Homo sapiens: one gene and its partners. The protein of the gene in region 2 interacts with the protein of the main gene of each other region in a pairwise test. Each region holds a gene or a part of one and is shown on either strand. Other genes may lie near its edges. The genes, in order: XRN1, DCP1A, RAD52, UPF1, NBDY, PAXIP1 and RITA1.

Region 1 (2,964 bases), about 89 Mb from region 2:
TCTAAGTGAAGTAACCCAGGAATGAAAAACCAAACATTGTATGTTCTCACTCATAAGTGGGAGCTAAGCTATGAGGATGCAAACGCATAAGAATGACACAATGGATTTTGGGGGTCAGAGGGAAAGTGTGGGAAGGGGCCAAGGGATAAAAGACTACAAATTGTGTGCAGTGTATACTGCTCAGGTGATGGGTGAACCAAAATCTCACAAATCACCACTAAATAACTTATTCATGTAACCAAACACCACCTGTTCCCCAATAACCTATGGAAATAAAAAAAATTAAAAAATTGGCCAGGCATGGTGGCATGTGCCTGTAGTCCCAGGTACTCAGGAGGCTGAGGCAAGAGAATCGCTTGAACCTGGGAGGTGAAGGCTGCAGGGAGCCGAGATCTCCAGCCTGGGCGACAGAGCAAGATTCTGTCTCAAAAACAAACAAACAAAAAGACTAATGTTTCTACTTTTGATATCAGCATAGTAATAAAAGAACAAACAGCTTATAAAATCATTCTCAAGTCTTTAATTAAAATCCATAGAGCATTTAACATGAACAGATGTTTAAACTCTTTCAGTGACTCTCATATTTTAAAATCCTTTGCACAGCATCGTGAGGCTAACTTCATGCTAGAAATCTACGGATAACGTAACACCACAAAAATACATTCGGAGTCCATTCCAATGCAAGTTTAAAACACTTTAATTGGCAGACAATGTAAAGATATTTAAAATCAAAAATTACAAAATGAGCACATAAAAGTCTTCCCTTTTGAATTTTTAATAAAATACTTCTCTGTATAAGATCTAATGAAAAATTCCAGTTACTTATAAAATAGTTGAGAAATCAATTAAGATATGTATCTATATATGTATGAATTACACTTTTGTTTAAATGAACAAAATGTTGAACACTTCAATGACAGCACAGCATCTATTACTCACATTAAACTAGATGAAAATACTCAAAGAAGCAGTTGGATACAGGCAAAAGAAAATATGATACTTAAAGCCAAAAGACAAAAAAATCCAAAAAACGAAAACAACCTCCCCATCCCCCACCAAACCCTTAACTGTAAGGGAAAGAAAGGAAGAGAGAACTTAAAGCTAACTATGGACCAAATTCTCATTCTTTTTAATGAGAAACAGCATGAGAATTTGGCTTCAAATTACTAAAACAGCTACAGAAACCTATTTGGCCTGGACAATTTAATAGTATACCAACTGCTGAAACAACCAAGTGCAGTTGGTGTACGGCTGGAGGGAAAAAAAAAAAGACTTTTTACAGGTTTAACTTTGTAAAAAAATGTATCTTTTGGAAACCATAGTCTCCTTCACAAATTGCACTTGAGATGGCTGAATGCATTGATTGAGCAAGGCATTATTATTTGTTCACTGACACACACACAAAAGCAGCTACAGATAGTTGACATTTTGGACTACTAAAACTATTTTATACATGTTTTTCTTCTTTAAGAAAAGGATCTATGATGTCTGTGAAACTTAACGGCCTGTCTGCTCTGCCATGTTTCTGGAGACTTGATGCTGGTTCAACACTATCTCTTACTGTATTGGAGAAGTTTGATGGAAATATGAATAAAGTCAGTCCGAACGACATTAATTTCTGGAATTTTAAGCTTTATCTTGACTAGGAAAGGAAGCTCCTGCAAAACTGATGGTTTCACTGACAAAGCTTACAAAATGTATATACTGAGCACTGCCAGTTTGAGTACTATAATTTATCTCTAGAAAAATGACAAATGAACTTCTGCAATTGATTTTTAAAGACAGAGAACGACTTTCACAGCCACTTCTCTACAATAAATTAATTGTCTTCTACAGTAAAAACAAAATTTGGAAGCAACATGATACCAAGAAATACAGCAAGCTCATAAGGCTGAGAAATTGTACAGTTGCTTTAAAAAACTGTGCTCTAAATAATGGGAAGAAGCGTGACAGAACTAACTTGAGTGAAGATCTGCACAGCTCTATCTCATATAATAAAAGTAAAAATTAGACAACCACTATAAACAGTTATGACTAACACAAATAGAACACATAAATAAAAAGTGAGTAAAAAAGACCTTACAGTTTATCTATTTCCTTGTGCTAGAAAGATACGGTATAGTCCAAAAATGCAGTGACTGGGTATGTCTTATTTAACTGTTTTTCTTCTTCCATCTGCCTCCCTCTCTCTGCCTCCTCTCATTAAAACCAAGAATCTAGCTTAGTTTGGAAGTAGCAGTCTAAAATGAAAGCAGGTACCTGATCATAGAAAGAAACAATAAAAAAACTTGCATCAATAGTTCTTCATTCCTCCACCAATCGGGAAAAAAACCCTTCAATCTTTATTAGTTACCCCTTTGAAAAGCAAGAAAAATCTTAAATTGAAACCAAGGTTCAGTAGAGGTGACTTTAATTTTTTTCTGCAACTACAACTGAGTCTTAGATGTTTAAGACTTTAGTCTACATGATGTTTAAATCAATTAATACATTCAAATTCTAACGCTGAGGTAATTATTAGGTAATGCAGGAAAATGTGAAAAGGAACGAGACTGGAAGGAGCAATCTTCAAAATTCACTTAAGTTGCTCAAAAAAGAAAAAACTTATTGAATAGAAATATTTAGAAATAATGTTTCAGTTAGGAGACAAAGGCTTAAATAGATTGAAGTGCTCTAGTTATGTGGAAGCATAAAGCAATTTGGGGAATCTGTCCTATGCCCTAAACAGTCCACCATTTTCACAAAAAGTCCTCAGAAGATTCAAGTTGAATGAGCATATTTTTAAACTTTGGGGGTGGTCTTAGTCCACCCCATCTCAAAGAGAGAATTTTAAATTTCTTGAAGTCCAACTGCTTTTCAGATATACTCTAAATTCCAGGTCTATCAACAGATTGTTTCCTCAACATGGGGCAGAAATGGCCTCTGCTTCTTACATCCTCCATAGGGAGGGCACATCTCCCATTGACC
Region 2 (3,500 bases):
ATAGTCAGTAAGGCAAAGCCCAGAATAGAATTCTTATCTGCAAACTAAATTCCATGCCAAAAGAATGTTACCATGGCAAAGCCACCCTCAGGGATATATTCTGCAGCTTTTGTATCTAGAAATCATTTGTAAGTTTCAAAAAGGAATGACTAAATAGGACGCATAAAAATCTAAGCCAAAGCTTCCCAAGTAGTTGTTTGATTCAGGTATGGCACAACAAAGAGCATGTTAGCACATGAGCTCATGCTGAGACTTCCACTGTCCAGTATGGCAGCTGCCAGCACATACAGCCATGTAAATTCTAATATATTAAATTAAATAAACTAAAAAGAAGTGTTCTTCATTTGCCCTAGCCACATTGCAGGCTACTATATGGGACAGTGCTGACACGGAACTATCATTTTCCCTAATTGCAAAGTTTTAGTGGATAGCACTACTCTAGAATATGGATTGATGAAGTAATTTTATTGTTACAGTAGAGTGGAAAGAACATTGGCCTTGAAGCCCGAAAGACCTACTCCCAAATTCTCCATCTGTCACTTATTACCTTTGCGAATCTCGAGCAGATTCCTAAACAGCTCTGAGCCTCTTGTTTTCTCAACCTGTAAGTTGAGGATCAGAAATAAGGTGCTAGAAATACCACTGCTACTCAATAACTCCAGAATTTATAACCTCCCCATAATTCATTGCAATCCCACTGGGGTCTTGTGACTGCCAAAAGGCCCTTGCACAGAATAAAAATACACTGTTCCCAAAAGATTCAAGAGGCTGGACATGGTGGCCCATGCTAGCACTTCGGGAGGCTGAGGCGGGAGAATTGCTTGAGCCCAGGAGTTCAAGACCAGCCTGGGCAACACAGTGAGACCTTGTCTTTTGAAAACAACCACCACCACCACCACCACTACCCCACAAAGATTTAAGAGAATCACCAAGCCTAAGCCCTTAGTCAGTGTAAGAATTTTCTCTTTAAGATTTTATCTTTTTCTTGAGGGGTGGGGTGGGTGTAGATGGGCATGTTTTATAAAGAAAAACTCTTGGCTGGGCGCGGTGGCTCACTCCTGTAATCCCAGCACTTTGGAAGGCCAAGGCAGGTGGATCACGAGGTCAGGAGATCGAGACCATCCTAGCTAACACGGTGAAACCCCGTCTCTACTAAAAATAGAAAAAATTAGCCGGGCGTGGTGGTGGGCGCCTGTAGTCCCAGCTACTCGGGAGGCTGAGGCAGGAGAATGGCGTGAACCTGGGAGGCAGAGCTTGCAGTGAGCCAAGATCATGCCACTGCACTCCAGCCTGGGTGACAGAGCAAGGCTCCGTCTCAAAAAAAAAAAAAAAGAAAAACTCTTAAAAATAAATAAAACAAATAACTTAGAACTGAAAAAAAGTTATGGTTCACTGTTCTAGTACATTAACTCCAAAAATTAATTTGAATGAAAGAAGTTGGATATGAAGGTGTCACTTGAGTTAAATGGGTCAGGTGTCTTGATGGTATTTCCCACAAGAGAATGGCAGAAGTGCAGCTATAGAATCAGGTATAATTACCTGTATGCATAATCAGATACTAACTTTTTATTTAAAGAACAAATCCCTAAACAACTTAATAGCTCGCTGACCTGACAAGACTATTTTCCACTTTTAAGACTATGTAGACAAAACACACACTCGAGAGGGCTTAACACTCACAAAATCATTTTCTGTTGTCTTATCACTTCTCCCCAATACAGCTATTCCTTTAAATACTTTCCCTAATGAAATGACCTGGTTAAGTGAGTTTTCTGTTCAACTAAGAAAACTTTTGTTTCAATCAGTTGAAAATTTTCTAAAGTAAAATGCATTAATGCACTTTCTCCCCAAGAATGTTCTAGTTAACATAATAAATACTCCTGATGATTTTAGGTCTCACTATAACAATTTAACCTATGATACTACAGTGGAGTTAAAGTTATAAAATATTGACATTTTAATGCCGACCCCAGGTTATTCTCTGGATATCTGCTTGATTTTCAGAAAATAAAACCTAGTATTAGCTTGTTTTCTTATAATTTGCCTTCATTTCTTCCACACACGAACTATAAAAATATTTCCAGACAACTGAAGCTCTAATTAGTTAGCTTCTGGTTACTCATGGTTCAATTACATTTGTGTTATGTCACACTTTCAATTTCACAGGACTTTTGCCTTGTGAAAAAAATATAATACAATTCATCTCAGGTTTATGCTAAATGGTAACTGGGTCCGGATAACTTTCCCTACTGACTACTTTAATAATCAAACCACTTAGGAGTGATGGCTAGATTAAGTTTCCAGGCAGTAAAGAACAGAATTAAGCCTATTTCACTTAAAAAAAAATTGGATCCATATTCATTTGCAGAATTTCTCCCACCCTCTTTTCATTTTTTGAGTCAGGGTCTCGCTTGTTGCCCAGGCTGGAGTGCAGTGGCGCAATCATGGCTCACTGCAGCCTGGACAGCCTCCTGGGTTCAAGCGACTTTCCCACCTCAGCCTCCTGGGTAGCTGGGACTACAAGTGTGTGACACCACACCTGGCTAATTTTTCTATTTTTTTGTGGAGTGGGGGTTTTGACATGTTGCCCAGGCTGGTCTCAAACTCCTGGGCTCAAGCAATCTGCTTGCCTCGGTCTCCCAAAATCGTGGGATTGCAGGTGTTGAGCCACTTTGCCCAGCCGAATTTTCCCTTTAATGGAATATTCAGTACAAAGAAAAGAGCAATCTGAAATAATTACATTGTTAACATTAGTTTAAATAAATCCATCTGAACTTACAGCTATTACAAAGCATGTCTAATATGTCCACAGAATTTAAAATCTGAGAGGTAATTACCTGGACAAATAGTTTACTGAGAAGTCAAAAGATAGAACCTATTTCACTTATACTTCAAAGTGTGCTACGGAAAAGAACTTGGGGGTTTCTAGCTTTAAAATAGGCCTTGTTACTTCTCATTCAGGGAATTAAGAGGTGTATAATTTTTAGTAACTTTTTCTATTTTATACTGAAGACATCCCCCAAGACCAATTACCCCCCCGCCAAGTGAAATTCAAACACATTAACTTTTACTTTTTAAGTTAGAAGCAACATTTCTCCAACTATATCCTTAGATGCCAATTAGAGCACAATCATTGTTACCATAACCAGTTTTCATATCCCTATAGTCAATGTCCAACAAACTGTCCTCAAACACCCATACCTTCAATATCCATACTAATACACTGGAATCAAGTATATTTTTTAGTACTGTAGTTTCTTGGAAGGGCCACTCTAGCTTTGCTGACTACATCCAATCGTTATTAGAGATTGTAAAAATGCCTGAAAGAACCCTGGACTAAAAAGCAGAAGAATAGTCATAATCCTAACTCTCCAACAGGGTAATAGTTATGCATCTCTGAGTCTCAGTTGACTTAACTGCCTGCTTACACCACATAGGTAACTGTATCGTTAACATTAAAGCACCACAGCTCTTGGCTCAGTGCTGGTAACCAGTAGACA
Region 3 (3,500 bases), on a different chromosome or scaffold from region 2:
TCGGGGGGCTGAGGCTGGAGAATTGCTTGTACCCGGGAGGCGGAGGTTGCAGTGAGCCGAGACCACACCACTGCATTCCAGCCTGGGCAATGGAGCAAGACTCTTTCTCAAAAAACAAAACAAAACAAACAAAAAAAATTCAGTCTTTTATTGAAGGACAATCTTATCTTTGTCCATAAAGTAAATGTGAAATATTTTTTGCCTTTTTTGCTCTTTTACTTTGAAAAAGATGTCTTACTATTCTGCTTTCCTTCCTAAAACTGTCTACAATGGTTTTTCCATTATAAAAGTAAAAAAAAAAAAAAAAAAAATTTAAGAGACAGCGTCTTGCTCTGTTACCCAGGCTGGAATGCAGTGGTGCAATCATAGCATACTGTAACCTTGACCTCCAGGGCTCAGGTGATCCTCCCACTGCGGCCTCCAGAGTAGACAGGACTACAGGTGAGTGCTATCATGCCAGGTTAATTTTTTTTAAAATTTTTTTAGAGATGAGTGTCTCACTATGTTGCCCAGGTTGGTCTTGAACTCCTGGGCTCAAGGAGTTCAAGTGTTTTTTATGTGTGCATATTCGTTAAACAAAGGTAGAATCCAAATGCATTAGGCATATCTTACACAGCACTTCAAATCTTCTTGGCCTTGTGTGTCCTTGAGGCCCTTGGTCACTTTGTCCACTCCAGCTGTCACTGGGCTGATCAAACACGTCTGGGTTATAACCAACTGCCCACAGGCACAACCCCACGGTCCCTTACCTCCTGCTCATACTGGGTACCTATCACTTCCCACCCGTGGCTTGCTGCTTGCCTTGGAGGTGTAAGGGTCTGTGGGACCCACCTGGTACCCACACATGCACAACCTAGAAGTCTATGGGAATTAATGTGCCATGAAGCAAACCTTTTTCCAGTGAGATACAGAAGCTGAGGGGTCCGTCCACCCTTCCTTTAGATGGATTGCCCTGGAATGCAGTTATGTATACATCCTCCTGGGAGACAGCTTTAGGAGAACAAGCAACCAACTGTACTTGCACCAAGGGCAACCAACTTCAAAATGCACCCTTGAACTGACTTAATCTTCCTTCTCCCTTCACTCACCTTTCCCCTACCTCTGCTTCCTGAGAGCACACTTCTTGAAAAAATAATAGCACATACGCTCTTGCCTCAAGCTGTAGGTTCTCCAGGTTCTAGGGTACCCAGGTATAGCAGACACTACGGATGCTCTACTCAGCATCCCTTCAGCTTTTTTTTTTTTCTGAGACAGAGTCTCGCTCTGTCACCCAGGCTGGAGTGCAGAGTGGTGTGATCTCAGCTCACTGCAACCTACACCTCCCAGATTCAAGCAATTCTCCTGCCTCAGCCTACTGAATAGCTGGGATTACAGGCATCCACCACCACGCCTGGCTAATTTTTGTATTTTTAGTAGAGACGGGGTTTCGTCATGTTGGCCAGGCTGCTCTCGAACTTCTGACCTCAGGTGATCCGCCTGCCTCATCCTCCCAAAGTGCTGGGACTACAGGTGTGAGCCACCGCGCCCAGCCATCCCTTCAGCTCTTACCACAATAGTGCACCCTATTCTGACTTCCAAATGCCAACATCTGCATCTTGTTACCTGAGAGCTTTCTTTGGTATCCAGACTACTTTGCACCTGTTTATGGCAAGCTGTAAGCACCAGAAAATTGAACCACCCTGGCAGCAGCCCTCAAATGGTGCCTGACAGGAGCTGGTGTTGAAATACGCTAAATTTCTGACCCCTCTGTGGAACATCACCAAGCCATGAGCTTCTCCAGTGGAATTAGGTTCCCCCGTGGCAACAGGCTTGAAAACTCACCCTTTGTTGTCAAACTTTCCTTTCCTGTCTCCCTTCCCCGCTCCTCTACTGTGTAAAGGACTAATCTCCAAATAAACTACTTGGGAATAAAAAGGAGGGCGGCAAAAGATGCCTTTACAATGTAGAAACCTGGGAGTTACCACCTTAATTATTAAGGAATCAAACTTAATGTCACCAATTACAGTCACATCATGTGCTTCCTGATGGACGCACTAAGAAGGTCCCATCATTGAGGTAGTATTTCTACCAACCTAATCATCAGGAAACAATCAAACAAGTTGAAATCTACAAAGCAACTGGCCTGGACTCTCCAAAGCATCAGTGTCTCAAAAAGCAAAACAAAATAGAATGGCTGGTGAACTCTTTTATGTTAAAAGAGGCTTAAGGCTGGGTGTGGTGGCCCACGCCTGTAATCCCAGCACTTTGGGAGGCCAAGGCGGGTGGATCATCTGAGCTCAGGAGTTCAAGACCAGCCTGGCCAACATGGTACAATTCCCGTCTCTACTAAAAATATAAAAAGTAGCTGGGCATGGTGGCACACACCTGTAGTCCCAGCAACACGGGAGGCTGAAGCAGGATAATCACTTGAACCCAGCGGGTGGAGGTTGCATGAGCCAAGATCATGCCACTGCACTCCAGTTTGGGTAACAGAGCAAGACTCCATCTCAAAAAATAAATAATAAATAAATAAAGACTTAAGAGGCATGACAACTAAATGCACTGTGTGATCTTCAATGAAATTTCGGATCAGGGATAAAGAAAAGCTATAAAGAATATTATTAGGACAATGGGAGAAATCTGATGATGGGATGAATATGAGACTGCAGCCACAACCTCCTGGGCTCAGGTGATCCTTCTGCCTCAGCCTCCCGAGTAGCTTAGACTACAGGTGTGCACCACCACAGCTGGTTAGTGTGATAATTATATCGTGATTCTGTAGGACAATGGCCTATCACTAGATGTATGATTTTGTATGATGCAATATTGGAGTAAAGTGTCATGTTTTCTGCAACTTACTCTCAATTCATTCAACTAATTGTGTGTGTGTGTGTGTGTGTGTGTGTGTGTGTAGAGAGAGAGAAAAAGGCAAGTAGATAAAGCAAAAGTACAAATTTATGAACCTAGGTGAAGGATATGCAGACATTAATTGTAAATTTTTTTTTTGAGACAGTCTCGCTGTGCCACCCAGTGCAGTGAGGCGATCATGGCTCACCGTACCCTCAAACTCCTTGGCTCGTGATCTTCCCACCTCAGCCTCCTAAGTAGCTGGGACTACAGTTGTATAACGCCACACACGGCATATTTTTTATTTTTTGTAGAGACACGGGTCTCACTATGTTGTCCAGGCTGGTCTCAAACTCCTGGGCTCAAGCAATCTTCCTGCCCAGCCTCCCAAAGCACTGGGATTACAGACGTGAGCCACTGCACCCAGCCCACTGTAAAATTTGTCCAAAGGCTTCAAATCTTTCAGGATGAAGTGTCAGGAAAGACTACCTGCATAGCCAAGATTATGGCAGCTATATAAATCCAAATATCCAAACACATGTCCAAAAACTACACAGACCAACCAACCGGAGAAACAAAGAAAATCACCAACGTCTCATATCTTCAACATACTTAGAAGACTGAAAATACTACAAGCTTCTAATTACCCATAAGTAGAAAAACGTCAATTTCTT
Region 4 (3,500 bases), on a different chromosome or scaffold from region 2:
CCTGCAGGGATGAGGCGGCTTCTCACAGCTGGTCAGGTGGTTCTGGGTTCAGGTGCTGGCTATCCAAATATGCTCACTTAGTAACCACTCATTGAGCCAGACACTTGTAATGTGGCCACATGTTTACACTTCAATAGAGAATTTCCTAAAATGTACTTCCTGGGTGTGAACTACGTGCTGTGCATCAATTAGAGAGCAGTGTGCACCAGCGTCTGCCCTCTGGGCCGATGCCCTGGGGACCATGAGGGGTCTGAGCCTGCGCCGAGCCACGCCTTTCCCAGCCAGTGCTCAGACACCCCAGAGCACAAGCTAGGTCTCTGTGGCCTTGTGTTTTCAGCCTTGCCATGCGCTGGGAACAGCGGTGTCCCTGCGATGTCAATAGTGGCATCAACTCCCAAGACCTACCGCTAGGCAAAGAGTGGTGTGGCCCAACCCGGGGGGTGGGCTCTGAGCCTCACTTTCTCCTGTAACTAGGCCTGACAATACCAACCTCACAGGTTTGGAGTTCATGAGGCGCTGTGTCGGCAGCTTTCAGGACCCTTTACACTCTCAAAAGTTAGGGAGTCCAAACAGCTTTTGTTTATTGGATAACTGTATTCTCTAAACTTGGAAATTTAAAAAATATATTAATTCATTTAAAAATAACCCATTACGTGTTAGTTATTTCTCCAAAAATAAGCTAAGTAAGAAGAGTGGTCCTGTCTCCCATTTCTGCAAATCTCCTTACTATCTGGCTGAATCGGAGGCAGCTGGGCCCTGGGGTCCACCTCTGCTCAGTCCACCCTCCTGGGCTCTGGGGACGCTGTGGGGAAGCCAGGCCTCATGGATGCCTGAGGCTGGAAAGGGAGATGGGTTTGTTTTTACAGCCTTTCTGCATGGCTGGGAGTCTCCAGCCCTGAGGCCACATCAAGCTGGACAAAGGTGGGTTTCTGCAGGCCTGTGACAACTCTTTGCCACTCCATCCCCATGTGACTTCGTGACACTCTGCTGGTCATTCAGGAAGGATCTCCCACCGAGTCAAGTAGGTCTTCCAAAGGCTGACACATTTCACTGGCAATGGTGGAAACATTCCATCTGTCACCCCCACAGACCTCACCAGAAAAGTCTCTAGGTGTTGGGAAGACACCAAGCTCATGGCAAGCGACGTTAAGTTTTCCAAAATTCTGGTTTTCACTTGAATTTTACTACTGTAACAGATGTTGCCACTAGTTCTCCATGAAGCGACAGGTTCGATCATTTTTGGAAAAAGTCTGCCCAACACCTTGGGGTGAATACCCAGGGTGTGTCCACAAGGACTTCCTTCAAGCGCCGGCATACCCAAAGGTGTCACGAGAAATTTTATCTGGTCACAGTGAAACACTCGAGGCTTAGTAAGATGTACTGTTCACTTCCTCATCCAGGGCGTTTCTTACTGTGATCCGGGCACAGTCTGGCTGCTCTGGGCTGACTCTTGCAGAAGCACCAGGGGGTCACCAGCAGTGTGAGCGTCAGCAGAGTGAAAAAGGGCAGGTGAGGCCTCTGTGTTATCCAGGGAAGCCGGACACGGTCTTGCGGGCCCCAGGGGCCCAGGCCCTGAGAACAGCTGTTCTTCATGAAGCACTGAATGCACAGCCCACGTTAAGGCCCGGGCTCAGCTCCCCTAACAGCCTGTCCTGGCTGCTGTGCATGCTGCCACATGAGGCTTGGATGAATTCTCAGGCAATGACTGAGTTTTACAGAGGACACAGGCTCCCCACATGCCCCAGAGACACCACTTGATCCAAGACCATACCATCAAGACCTTGGGCACAAAGTGCCCTGACCTCAAGCAGTGGCTATGTGAAGCCGCTCAGGGGAAGCTGATGGGCCAGTTCCTTCTCCCCAGTCCACATTCCCTTGATGCCGCTTCTCTGTAGAAGCCCCTGCCCTGGGCAGAGCCCCGTTACCTGCAGTGACACCATTCTGGAGGGAGCCCTCGTAGAAGATGTTGGATGGGAAGGCGCTGAGTGCAGGGTGCATCCGGTACTGGACCTGCAGGCGGATGGGCCGGATGCCCAGCACCACCAGGCGCTCGAAGAGCGACTGTGACAGCCCGGCCTTGGCCGCCTTCTTGCACATCACCACTGGGCCCAGCTGGCAGTGGTCGCCTACAAGGATCAGCTGTAGGAACAGGGGCCCCCACAAGTCAAGAAGCTCAGGTGTGAATCAGCCTCAACACACACTAGCAAGGAAGTAGGGGCCCCAGGATGCACAGGACACCACCTGGCCACAGGGGCATTGCTCACCACGCACACTGGACGTGCAGCTGGCAGAACCCACCCTCTATAAACCCCTCAGGGAGCCCCCAGTGTGCGCACACTCTGCTGGGCATCCTACGTCAATACAAGGTGTTTTAAAAGACAAACACCAAGAATCACACACACGAGTTTTCACACAGGAGGGCAGGGGAGGCAGCCCACCTGCTTGGCCCCGAGGACCACGGGAACCATGCACTCCGGCTCGGTGGCCTGGGTGCTTTCGTCGATTAAAATGGAGCGGAACTGCATCTTGGCCAGCCTCGGGTCACCGGCGCCCACACATGTGCAGCAGATGACATCTGCGTTCTGGGGAAGGGTGCAGAGGCATCAGGGCACCTGCACTGTAAACGCCACCAGACCCCGGAGGGCAGGTGGGACAGAACACAGAAGCTCTCCTGTTTCTCACCCTCCCTGACACTATAAAAAACAAGCTGTCCCTCCCAGACAAGATACATGGTCCAGGCTGTGGTGATTACAAACTTTTAAGATCCTTAAACGGTCATGTTTCACAGAAGGCAACCTCTCCACACCAAGAGCTCTGCGCCTCACGACAGCCTCCAAGGGGCAGTGCTGAGCTGCTGGAACCTGCACTCAGGCTGATTCCAGTTCAGGCTGGTTGGTTATGAAAGAGCAGGAGTGTTCTAGATCCACTGCCGGATCCCAGTGGAGGCTGGCAGGGAGTGGAGACTCCCTAGAAGACCGTGTTCCAGGCAGCGAGATGTCCCTAATTTACTGTACAACTGAGCGCAGAGAGGCCAAGTAGAGAGCATCTAAGTTCTCTTTCCAGAAGCAAAGCAACAATTCAAATAGGTGCTTTGGCCCAAACAAAAACCATCAGGCCGCCAGCCCACAGGCCCTTTTGCAGGCAGGAGGGGCACTCACCATCAGCAGCTCTCTCTCTGCGGTGCGCTTCAAGGCCCGGTACCGCTTCTCGTCGGCAGACGACAGCTCCCCAGTCTCGTCTTTCAGCTGCTGCAGCTTCTGCAGCTCAGGCATGCTGGAAGCACATGCAGGTCAGCAGGGTGCCTGAGTTCTGTACATGTCACCCGCAGAAGCTCAGGGACCAACTGGGAGGGATGGACTCGACACACACCTGTCCATGTTCCTGATCTGGTTGTGCAGGGCCAGAAAAGACACCGGGGAGTCGATGGCCTCACGGCTCTTGGCGCAGAGGCGCACGACCTTTAGCCCCGTCTGGTGGATCTTCTCCGTTAGCTGGTCCAC
Region 5 (4,119 bases), on a different chromosome or scaffold from region 2:
TTGTTTTATTATTTAGCGGTAATTACTGTTTATTTTATTTTATTATTTTGTTTTATTTTTTGAGATGGCGTCTTGCCCTGTTGCTTAGGCTGGAGTGTGCATTGGTGCAATTTTGGCTCACTGCAACCTCTGCCTCCCAGGTTCAAGCTATCCTCCCACCTCAGCCTCCTGAGTAGCTAAGATTACAGGCATACACCACCACACCCTGCTAATTTTTTTTGTGTGTGTATTTTTAGTAAAGATGGGGTTTCATCATGTTGGCCAGGCTGGTGTCAAACTCCTGACCTCAAGTGATCCCCCTGCCTCAGCCTCCCAAAGTGCTGGGATTACAGGATGAGCCACCATGCCTGGTCTTATATATTTTAGATACAAGTCATTTATGAGACATATTATTTGCAAAAATAATCTTGCACTGTGGCTGTCTTTCAAATTTCTTGACTGTGTTCACTGAAGCAAATTTTTTTTCAATTTTAATTATGTCCAGTTTATCTTTTTTTTCCTTTATTAACTTGTGCTTTGGTGTAAGAATTAAAAATCTAATACTTAATTCAAGGTCACAAAAATTTATTCTATATTTCCTCCCAAGAGTTTTATAGTGTAACCCTTATATTTGAGTCTTTGGCCTATTTTGAGTTAATTTTTGTATTTTGCATGAGGTAGGGGTGGAAGTTTTTTGTTTTTTTGTTTTTTTTTTGCATGTAGATACCAAGTTGTCCCAGTACCATTTATTGAAAATAGTTATTTCCCCTTTTGTCTTGCCTCCTTCTCAGAAGTTAATTGGCTGCAAATTAACTTTTGTGAGGGCTTATGTCTGGACTTTGGATTCTATTTCATTGATCAATATTTATATCCTATGCCAGTACCACATAGACTTGTTTATTGTAGCTTTGTAATAAGTTTTAAAATTTGGAAATGTGACTCTTCAAACTTTGTATACTTCAAGATTGTTTTGGCTATTCTGGGTCCATTACATTTTCATATGAACTTTAGAATCAGGTTATAAATTTCTTCAAAGTAGGCAACCTTAATTTTGATAAGGGTTGCATTGAATAGTTTGATTATTTTGAAGAGTGTTGTCATCTTTATAATACTGTGCCTTCTGATGCATAAAATGCCTTTCACCAGATGTCCTTTTAAAGAAGTCTGTGTTTACTGTTTGTGATGTTCAGCCTGGCTCAGAAGTTTTAAAACTCTAATGTGTGATTAGTAATATTATACAATCTTTAAAATAACTGTCTATAATTTATTAAGTGTGCATAACATAACTCTAGAATATACATAAATGTCACCATACCTCCATTTGTGATTTTTCAGATTCTTTAATTCTGATGCTAGGGACTAATTTCAGAGGATTGGGTAAAATACTCAGGTTTCACAATCTCTCTAAATATTCATTTTACAATGTAAGCTTTAATTACTTATTTGAACAAATTGTATTATTATTTTATATTTTAATTTATAAGCCAAGTTTATCTGACATTTTCAGATATAATATATGCTTTCAAGTCTGTTTATCTTTTATTATTACAATTCAAAGGTAGAAGCTTTATTTTTTTATATCCCTGGAAATTATTATAGTCTATAAATTTTTTTCTATAACCTTGTAATTCCTGAAACATTTATGAACTATATGAAATATTGAAAGCTGCTATCTAATGTTTTCCCATTTTACTTGTATTTTTTCACCATAATATTTATTACTGTTTTTAATTAGGATATTCTATTTGTTCAATACTAAGCATTTTAGAAGGAAAGTAGAAAATTACAAAAAACAAGCACATCAACCATTTCAGTCAGAAAAAAATAGTTAAGATGTAAAATACTAGGATGAGGATTAGCATAAAAAGATGTAGATTCCATGCAAAAACTGACAGCAAATTAAAGAAAGTGTACTGGAAACAATTCTTTTTTGGATTTAACCTTCCTCTACTTTCCTTATATTTTTCACTAAAATAAATGAATAAATAGACATAAATAAATGAATAAATGTAGGAAGAAGGTCATATTTCAACACTAATTTTAGTAATGCTTTACATAGGAGTTCTTATAAAATATTTACTTAAAATTCACAATTTACTAGATGTAGTCATATAGATCTAACACAGCGCTTAGAGACAAACTTTATTGGGGCCTTAATGGATTTATAGGAATATAAAGTTATACAACAAGAACAGGATGTCACCAAAAGAGTTCACTGGTTGGCTGCTGCAGGACCATCTCACAGGCATTGTTTGCTTTGGTAAGTTCACCATGATCCAGGGCATGGCCTTAAATCTCAGAGGTCTTACAACCCGATCTTGCCCATGTCTTAGAATTCATCGAAATTCAGGAAGTGAAATCGCGCTGATTACATCATAAGACTGAAAGATACAGAAAGAACAAAAGTTTATTGACTTATAATGAGAAATTCCATTATCATACAGGTCAGATATGTCTGTTGAGCAGAAAACACCCCAATTTCCCTATTAAGCAAGTTAAAGAGAATGCAAAATTATTAGATGAGTGCTTAATAAATATTAAATCAAAGGCATACAATGTCAATAACCTGCATCTTTTTGGTATCTAATGTATTTGAATGCAAAATAATTTATCTGTTAGGTGGACCAGATGTTTCTATTATCTTAGGCATATTTCTCCCCCAAAAAGTACAGGGATGTCTACCGCTATTACTCTTGTTTTATTAGGCTTCCAAAACTAATCAATCAGCCTCATTGTTCCCTCATAGCCCCTTGACAAACTCCTATATTCCTTGGAAATTTTATATTTATTTATTTATTTACACAAATAATACATGAATAAATACATGAATACAATCTAACTGTATATAATTCAAACAACATAGACATAATTCTTCTTACTGCTAAACTTTTACCATTCCTCAGTCTTTCTCCTATTTACAGAAGAAAACATAGTTATCAATTCTGTCTAGACCTTTTTATTTCTATTTAAATGTACACATATATAGTATTTATAATAATATAATAATTTAGATTTGGAGTTTATAATATAAATTAGATCATCCTAGCATACACTTCGGCAATTTGTTTTTATTCACTTATAAATGTCTTAATAATTTTTAATATAAAAATAGATCAGTCTCAATATTTCAATGGCTTCAAAATATTGCATCGTGTTACAGTATAATTTTAACTGTTGAAAGATGTTCAAATTCTGTTGAAAGATATTTAATATGCTTGCAACATTTTTACTACAAGCAAGCCAATTTATTGATATGTAGAATTATTTCCATATATTCTACAAATAAAACACAAGTCAAAACTTACAAACATTAAAATTACGATAGAGATAAAATACTTTAGAAACGTACAATTTTATAGACAGTAGATATTTAACCAAATCCTTTCTAAAACTGAGAATTCTGGAGACTTTTTTGATTGTGGCAAATATGATGACCTAATATTAAAGTCAACTATATTTATTATTATTATTGGCCATATATTTTTGTCTCCTATGAATTGCCTGTTCTTTGACTATATTTCTATCAGGCTTTGTTTCTGTATTAACATAAAGAAATGTATTATATATTCTATGAATTAATGGCATCCATTATCTATCTTTTAAATGGAACCACATTGTATATAAATAGTCTTTAAGTTTACTTATGCTGTTTTTCTTCGTATAAAATTTGCATGTTTTATAAAAGAAAATTATATTTAGAAATATAATACGAAGGCATTAAAATGAGGAAAACAACATGAAATGTATAAAAGAGAAGATTAACAATTTCTTCCAGAAAAACAATTCTAAATCTGTGGAGGTTAAAAGATGTTAAAAGTATGGAATAAATGCCTAATAATTTTTTCCATAACCAATCAAAGACACATATACTTACCAACATGTAACTCTTTCTGTTTGTTGTTACAAAAAATGAGTTTGTATTATACACATTACTCCGAACATGTTTTATTTATTTAATAATATCTCATAGTAACCACATAAACTTAAATATTTTAAAAATATCTGCACAAAATTCCAGCAAATGTGTCCACCAAAACATAGTAATTCTCAAAATGAACATAACTGAGACAGTTTCCAATTGTTTTCACAAATATGCAAACATATTCTCAGATGGTATAATAAAAAAGTTAAACAATTTGT
Region 6 (3,500 bases), on a different chromosome or scaffold from region 2:
TTCTTTGAATAACTTATTTCTCATAGATGTATTTATTAAATTTGTGTACTTATTTTTAAACATTATAGTAAAGAAAAGTTCTCTAGAGATGTGCTGTGGTTCACAGGAGGAAGACCTCCAGTGGCAATGTCCAAGAAGGAAGCCAAGAGGTAAATGGGATGCAGGGTGAGCCCAGCTCCCCTGGAGGCGCACTTCCCACCAAATCACCTGGTAGTTCCCTTGAGCAGGTCCGTGTGTTATGCTTACTTGGACTGATTTACTTTTCCCTTAAAGTGTACCTTAAAGAGTGGAGAAACGTGTGCCCGTTTTAAGGATTCTTCCAAGCTGAAAGAGAAAAGTACTTCTGCCTCAGCATCTCGGAGAATGTAGTTCTGCTCATCTGGAAAACAGAACAGCACATACTCTGAAAAGTGTGGACACGTGAAGTGTGGCAAGTGTGACCCACAAAATTCTCGCCCATATTCAGGTACATAATATTACAGCTACATTTACCTGTACAGCCTTCGGATATTTAAATGTCACCATTATATTTCATTTACTTCCCTCTAAAAACAGCCAGACCAAAAAGACAGACAGGTATTTTTTCTCCTAGATCAGTGGTAATTAACCATTTGGGGTCATAAACTCTTGAAAAAAACGGGCTGGGTGTGGTGGTTCATGCCTGTAATTCCAGCACTTTGGGAAGCCGGGGAAGGAAAGCTGCTTGATGCCAGGAGTTCGAGAACAGCCTGGGCAACACAGTGAGACTTCATCTCTACAGAAAAATTTTAAAATCAGCTTGGCATGGTGGCATGTGCCTGTAGTCCCAGCTACTCGGGGGACTGAAGTGGGAGGATCGCTTGAGTCTGGGAAGTTCGAGGCTGTGGTGAGCCATCATTGCACCACAGCACCCCAGCCTGGGCAACAAAGTGAGATCTGGTCTCAAAATAATAGTAATTTTTTTTTTTTTAACAACAAAAATGTAAAAAAAGAAAAAAAAAATTACTGAAAAATATGAACCCTCTTCCCATAGCTGCTCCTCCCCTCTTTACCCCCCGACTATTTTAGGAAGTTCACCAACTTTCCAAGCCCGCAGATCTCAGGTTAAAATCTCCAGTCCTAGAAAGACAAGCTTCAAATAATCCCATCCAAGTGTATATTATATATATATATGTTATATATATACACTAACTCCTCAAGGACTTGTAGGACATTGGAGTCATTTGGCTCATAATCAATTATGTGAATTACCAAACTTTAAAGATTTACCAAACACACATTCAAGTATATAAAAGTATACAGCAATTTATAAAGGATAGTTTTATCAATTTTTAAAGACTTCTGACAATTATTAATAATTGACAGATTTTCAGTTTTCATAGCAACATTTTAAGAAATGTGTCAAAAGGTAAAGATCACAAAATGTTTCAATCTTCCTATAAATATGCCTCATATTCAGAAAACCATTTCTCCTCCGCCGCCATTTCCTACCAACCATACAGCATAATAAGGCAGCTCAAACCCAATAATATATACATCAAAAGCAGAAAACAAGGAAAAGTGATTTGGGATTGGCAAACTGGGGTTGACAAGATGATACATATTTTAGGATTTGTGGGCTATGTATTATTTCTCCTGCATATTCCTCTTCTCTTTTTTAAGCAATATTTAAAAAATGTAAAAACCATTTTCAGCGTATGGACCAGTTTGCTGACTGCTGGGCAGGAGCAACCACATCATGACAGAAATGCAGGGATCTGTTCACCAACGGCCAGAAATACAAAATCAATCCCTGAGTCAACCAGCAGATAGAAAGGCTGCTTTTTAGGTGAAAGGAGAAAAAGAATGTCTAAAATTTGGAAAAACAAAAAATGATGAATTAAAAAAGGAACAAAAAAAGTACTGTTACACATGAGATGGTATATTTGAAGTGTTACTTTCAAAGCTGATATGCCTTCTGAAGAACTTGTGTGAGATCACCAAGAATAGTTAATGTTTATGATAGAGAAAACACCACCGGGCGCGGTGGCTCACGCCTATAATCCCAGCACTTTGGGAGGCCGAGGTGGGCGGATCTCTTGAGGTCAGGAGTTCAAGACCAGCCTGGCCAACATGGTGAAACCCTGTCTCTACTAAAAAATACAAAAAAATTTAGCCAGGCGTCGTCGTGGTGGGCGCCTGCAGTCCCAGCTACTAGGGAGGCTGAGGCAGGAGAATGGCTTGAACCCAGGAGGCAGAGGTTGTAGTAAGCCAATGGCACCACTCTACTCCAGCCTGAGCAACAGACTGGGTGAGACTCTGTCTTAAAAAGAAAAGAAAGTAATATTGAAAAATACAGTAATACAGCTAAGACGATCCTGTCACAGATGAGACATTGAGATTTTGGTTTTTTCAAACAGGGTTATGTTACCTTAGTAGTAGCAATGTAAAGACTCAACCTGAACATTAAACTTTTCATGGAAGTACAAAAGAAATGAGTATCCTAGAAATTGATTATAATATTGATGTCTCAAATTTTATGTAAGTTACACATAAATATAAAATCCCAAAAACATGCACCTACCAAAACAGGTGGAGAAAAGAGTGTTTTCAACAAATGATGCTGGAACAACTGCACATCCATATGCAATAAAAGGAAGCTGGACACAGACTTTACCCTCTTTTAAAAAAAACTGACCCAAAAATGGAACACAGACCTAAATGTAAAATGCAAAACTATGAAACTCCTAGAAGATAACACAGGAGAGAATCTAAGGGACCTTGAGTTTGGCAATGACTTTTTAGATACAACACCAAAGACACAATCCATGAAAGAAATAAGAAGTAACCTGGACCTCACCTATTAGAATGGCCAAAACCCAGAGCACTAACACCAGCATATGCTGAGGAGGATGTGGAGCAACAGGAGCTCCCATTCACTGCAGGTGGGAATGCAAAATGGCACAGGCACTTCAGAAGACAGCCTGGCGGTTTCTTACAAAGCTAAACATACTCTTACCATATGATCAAGCAATTGCAACCTTGTTGATTTACCAAAAGGAGTTGAAAACTTACGTCCACACTAAAACCTGTACATGGATGTTTTAGCAGCTTTACTGCTAACTGCGAAAATTTAGAATCAGCTAAGATGTCCTTGTGTAGGTGAGGGGCTGAACAGATACATTCTGACAATGGAATATTATTTAGTGCTAAAAAGAAATGCTTTATGAAGCCATGAAAAGACATGGAGGAAGCTGGGACGTATATTGCTAAGCAAAGGAAGCAAATCTGAAAATCCTATATACTGTATGATTCCCAATATGTAACATTCTGGAAAGGGCAAGACTATAGAAAGAATAAAAGATCAGTGGTTGCCAGGGGTCAGCAGGCAGGAAGGAATGAGTGGGTGGAGCACAGAGGATTTTCAGGGCAGTGGAACAACTCCATATGACGCTGTAAAGCAAAATCATGTCCTTACACATTTGTTAAAACCCAATGACTGTTCAAGGCCAAGAGTGAGCCCTAATGTAACTATGGACTTT
Region 7 (4,148 bases), on a different chromosome or scaffold from region 2:
GGCAAGGAGAGGCCCAGAGCCCAGCCCACACTGCCCAATCTGGGTGCAATTCCATCTGCGCAAAGGCTTTGTTGCTTTTCCTAAGTCCTGGGCTGCATCCTAAGTGCTCTGCAGACACACATGTCACTGTCTGGCTTTCTTGGACCCTCCACTTGGCAAAGTCCTAGCCATTGTGTTTTATTTCCCACCTTAACACACACACACACACACACACACACACACAAACAAACTTAAAAACAAAACTAAAAAAATACTATTGTCTGTACTCTGAGCTAAGGAAGAGCCGGCCAACCACAAGTTAGTGGCATTAGCCAGAAGCCGACGGGAGGAAGAGTCCAGCGCTTCCCGAAGCCCCAGATTCCCAAACTTCAGTTACCCACTCACCGCTGTCATGTTGCCTGCCACATCCTTGTACTATCTGTTGTATTTAACTTTGTTATTTAAATCAACTCAGGCCTAACAATGGCCTTTACCCTGAGGGGGAAAAAAAGTGACATTCATGGCTTTGATGAGCTGATCTATTTAGTACATGAAAATAAATTCAGAAGCATATTAAGATGAAACAGTGTTCACTCACAAATCTCCCAGTTGCCGTTGTGTTCCCCAGGCTTCACAGACAGCCTGGAAAAACTCCTCTAGGGCTTGCAGACTTAGCTGGAAACTAATCCTGAGCAGGAAGCTTGGCTTGAAGGGATAAGAGGGGACCCTCCAGGTTGGCAATCACGCCGTTTATTCGCACTTGGCAGCAAGACAATGGATGATGTGGGAGGTGCCAGGCCCCTGGGTTGGCACTAATTTGGAGTATGGTTGAGACAGGGCTGGAGAGAGGCATCTTAGAGGTGGCCCCCAAATCCGCAATCGGGAGAAAAAGGCAAGAATCGACTAGAGATTGTCAGGATAAAGGGAGGCACTGCCCACCCCTGCTATGTCTGTCTGCCCCCACAGGGGCTTCTTTAATACCTGGGGTTCCCTGGGTGATGAATGTCCTCCTACCCTGGCAAGGGGCCATACCTGTCGCCGTGGCCCCATAGGCAACCCTGATGAAAGAGTATCATTTCCAAGGGGGCTTTGGTTTCTGGGTGGCCCCACCTCGTCGTGGGGTAGATGGCACTGAAATGCTAACTGAGCGAGCCCTGGAAGTCACCAGGGGGCTCCGGAAGGTCACCCCTGACGTGGAAGGCCTGAGATCCTGAGGCCCATTTGTGTGGGGGGCACTGGTGGCTGGATGACCAGTGCTGGGGACATTCAGGTGGGTGAGGGAATGGGAAAGTCCCCGCTTCAGGGGGCGTGAAGAGTGTAACCCACCCATAGATAACTTCTGGGAGTCTGCCGCTGGCCCCGGCTCTGTCTTGGAGGGACCAGCTGGGTGAATGGCTCGCAGTGGTGCCTCCCTGGGGCGGGGCGAGTGGCTACCCCTGGGGGTAGGTGGTGGCGTCCACAAGAGAGCACGGAGCTTTGCGGCATCCCCCTTCGCCATCCGCGGGGCCCCGAAGCTGGCGCCTTCAGATCGGGAGCCAAACAGCGACTCATCACAGTAAGACGGGGTGTGGCTGATGGGTCTGGCAAATGGAAGATAAACGCCATGAGCTGGGGGATGAACAACCCCTCAAAACTTTAACAGCTCTCCCACCCACCCTGGGATGGCAGCAGCAGAGGAGGGTTGCCTGCAGATCCCAGGAGTCCTTGTCTCCCAGTCTGAAACCTACAGCGAGGCCACAGCCTCTTAAGCACCACTGCCCCCGGTCTCTGCTGATTTTCCCTGCGAAACATCCACTGCCCCTGCATCCTGACCCCATTCCCAGACATGTGCCCCAGGCCTGGACAATTTGCATATTCCATCCTCCTGGCCACATGGATTGGTTCACGAATGGCCAGATGACCCAAGCCTGTCCAATCAGAATCTGCCTTAGGACCTTGCAGAAACCACTAGGAAAGAGATGTCTTTCTGCCACCTGACTTTACTTCTTGCTAAGCTGATAGGATGTCAGCCCAAAGCAGCTTGTGGCTATCTCCTTCCTACTGAAGATTGAAGGGCATGCAGGGAAAAGCAGCACTAAGGTGGAGACAGACAGTTCCAGCCACAGTTTGAGCCCCTGTTACAGGAGCCCCACATGCCTTCTCCTGGGGAAGCCAGTTTGAATAAGTTTTCTGTCACTTGCAATTGAGAGTCACAATTAGTATAACCTTAGTCTTTATAGCCTCCACTTTTTCTTTTCTTTGTGAGACACGATCTCACTCTGTTGTTCAAGTGGAGTGTAGTGGCACAGTCACAGATCACAGCAGCCTCAAATTCCTGGGCCCAAGCAATCCTCTCACCTCAGCCTCCCTAATAGCTGGGACTACAGGCACAGTGCCACCAAGCCCAGCTAATTTTTTTGTTTTTGATTTTTAGTAGAGATCAGATTTATGTTGCTCAGGCTGGTCTTGAGTTCCTGAACTCAAGCAGCCCCCTGCCTTAACCTCTCAAAGTGTTAGGATTGCAGGAGTAAGCCACCGTGCCCATTTTCTTTTCTTTCTTTCTTTTTCTTTTTTTTTCTGAGACAGAGTCTCGCTCTGTCACCCAGGCTGGAGTGCAGTGGTGCAATCTCAGCTCACTGCAACCTCCGCCTCCTGGGTTCAAGCGATTCTCCTGCCTCAGCCTCCTGAGTAGGCGGGATTACAGGCATGTGCTACCATGCCCAGCTAATTTTTGTATTTTTAGTAGAGACGGGGGGGGTTTCACCATGTTGGCCAGGCTGGTCTTCAATTCCTGACCTCATGATCTACCCACCTCGGCCTCCCAAAGTGCTGGGATTACAGGCAAGAGTCACTGCGCCCGGCCTTTTTTTTTTTTTTTTTTAAGAGACAGGGTCTCACTCTGTCACCCAGGCTGGAGTGCAGTGACGCTCGCTGCAGCTGCGAACTCCTGAGCTCAAGTAATCCTCCCACTTCAGCCTCCAGAGTAGCTGGGACTACAGGTATGCACCACTATGCCCTGCTAATATTTTTATTTTTTGTAGAGACAGGGATCTCACTATGTTGCCCAGGCTGGTCTCAAACTCTGGAGCTCAAGCGATCCTCCCACCTCAGCCTCCCAAAGTGCTGGGACTACAGGCCTGAGTCAGCCTGTCTGGCCTTTTTTTTTTTTTTTTTTTTTATTCAACAGATATTCACGGCATACCTGCAAGATTCCACGCCCATAGTTTTTTTGGCCAGGACTGAAAGTGCTTCTATCCCCAAACTGCAAGTCTTTGAAAGGGCAAGCTTTTGCCACTTGGTTTAGCTGCTCAAACCACATTGGCTAATGCCTGTATATGTCTGGTGCCAAGGTTTTTGCTCAATAACTTCTCTACCTCTTATGCAACCCCTCACTTGACACCCTCTACCTGTTGGCATCCAGAAGAAAATTCCACCCTCCAGGTGAGCAAGGAGTTGTCACCTCCCTTTTCATGGACACCATACTTCCTAATGCAGCCTATCTTTACCTCAGTGTTTTCAGCCATGTTGTAGGTATCAGTGTTGCTAATCTCCACCTGACCCTGCCTTGTCTACAGAACTGGCAATAACTGATTCTTGTTTTTATAATAGGTATCATTCCCATTCTCATTTCATTTCTCTCATCTGAAATATGTCCCTGTGGTTCAGAATGAACCCTAACTTTAGCTGGCCAGTTCTTATGGACTGAATTGTGCCCACCCAAATTCATATGTTGAAGCCCTAACCCCAAATGTCTCTACACTTGGCCTTAATTATTTAGATTAATTAAAGGTAATTAAGGCTGGCCAGACATGGTGGCTCACATCTGTAATTCCAGCACTTTGGAAAGCAGAGGCGGGAGAACGACTTGAGCTCAGGAGTTTGAGACCAGCCTGGCCAACACAGTGAAACCCCGTCTCTACTAAAAATACAAAAATTAGCCAGGCATGGTGGCGTGCACCTGTAATGCCAGCTACTCGGGAGGCTGAGGCAGGAGAATTCCTTGAACCCGGAGGTGGAGGCTGCAGTGATCCGAGATGGTGCCACTGCACTCCAGCCTGGGCGACAGAGCCAGACTCCATCTCAAAAAAAAAAAAAAAAAAAAAAAAAAAAAAAAAAAAAAAAAGGTAACTAAGGCTAAATAACATTATAAGGGTAGGGGATCCTAATCCAATAGAACTGGTGTCCTTATG

Evidence for each region.
Region 1: the proteins of DCP1A (region 2) and XRN1 interact in a two-hybrid assay, tested with the Homo sapiens proteins (one large-scale study listed by BioGRID).
Region 3: the proteins of DCP1A (region 2) and RAD52 interact in binary tests that used the Homo sapiens proteins (3 or more experiments, as listed by UniProt).
Region 4: the proteins of DCP1A (region 2) and UPF1 interact in binary tests that used the Homo sapiens proteins (3 or more experiments, as listed by UniProt).
Region 5: the proteins of DCP1A (region 2) and NBDY interact in binary tests that used the Homo sapiens proteins (3 or more experiments, as listed by UniProt).
Region 6: the proteins of DCP1A (region 2) and PAXIP1 interact in a two-hybrid assay, tested with the Homo sapiens proteins (one large-scale study listed by BioGRID).
Region 7: the proteins of DCP1A (region 2) and RITA1 interact in binary tests that used the Homo sapiens proteins (3 or more experiments, as listed by UniProt).

The regions. Positions count from the first base shown.
Region 1 is NC_000003.12:142,306,110-142,309,073, forward strand, and holds the end of XRN1 (5'-3' exoribonuclease 1), read right to left. Parts: 3' UTR 501-2,964; downstream 1-500. UniProt on the Homo sapiens protein: Major 5'-3' exoribonuclease involved in mRNA decay. Required for the 5'-3'-processing of the G4 tetraplex-containing DNA and RNA substrates. The kinetic of hydrolysis is faster for G4 RNA tetraplex than for G4 DNA tetraplex and monomeric RNA tetraplex.
Region 2 is NC_000003.12:53,337,544-53,341,043, forward strand, and holds part of DCP1A (mRNA-decapping enzyme 1A), read right to left. Parts: intron 603-3,500; coding exon of another isoform or gene 548-602; intron 1-547. UniProt on the Homo sapiens protein: Necessary for the degradation of mRNAs, both in normal mRNA turnover and in nonsense-mediated mRNA decay. Removes the 7-methyl guanine cap structure from mRNA molecules, yielding a 5'-phosphorylated mRNA fragment and 7m-GDP.
Region 3 is NC_000012.12:936,195-939,694, forward strand, and holds part of RAD52 (DNA repair protein RAD52 homolog), read right to left. Parts: intron 1,258-3,500; exon of another isoform or gene 892-1,257; intron 689-891; exon of another isoform or gene 613-688; intron 1-612. UniProt on the Homo sapiens protein: Involved in double-stranded break repair. Plays a central role in genetic recombination and DNA repair by promoting the annealing of complementary single-stranded DNA and by stimulation of the RAD51 recombinase.
Region 4 is NC_000019.10:18,855,959-18,859,458, reverse strand, and holds part of UPF1 (regulator of nonsense transcripts 1), read right to left. Parts: coding exon 3,370-3,500; intron 3,274-3,369; coding exon 3,159-3,273; intron 2,583-3,158; coding exon 2,439-2,582; intron 2,140-2,438; coding exon 1,926-2,139; intron 1-1,925. UniProt on the Homo sapiens protein: RNA-dependent helicase required for nonsense-mediated decay (NMD) of aberrant mRNAs containing premature stop codons and modulates the expression level of normal mRNAs.
Region 5 is NC_000023.11:56,815,561-56,819,679, reverse strand, and holds the end of NBDY (negative regulator of P-body association), read right to left. Parts: intron 2,361-4,119; 3' UTR 501-2,360; downstream 1-500. UniProt on the Homo sapiens protein: Promotes dispersal of P-body components and is likely to play a role in the mRNA decapping process.
Region 6 is NC_000007.14:154,947,625-154,951,124, forward strand, and holds part of PAXIP1 (PAX-interacting protein 1), read right to left. Parts: intron 1,867-3,500; exon of another isoform or gene 1,674-1,866; intron 467-1,673; exon of another isoform or gene 380-466; coding exon 279-379; exon of another isoform or gene 274-278; intron 150-273; exon of another isoform or gene 69-149; intron 1-68.
Region 7 is NC_000012.12:113,188,721-113,192,868, reverse strand, and holds the end of RITA1 (RBPJ-interacting and tubulin-associated protein 1), read right to left. Parts: intron 1,560-4,148; coding exon 1,052-1,559; 3' UTR 501-1,051; downstream 1-500. UniProt on the Homo sapiens protein: Tubulin-binding protein that acts as a negative regulator of Notch signaling pathway.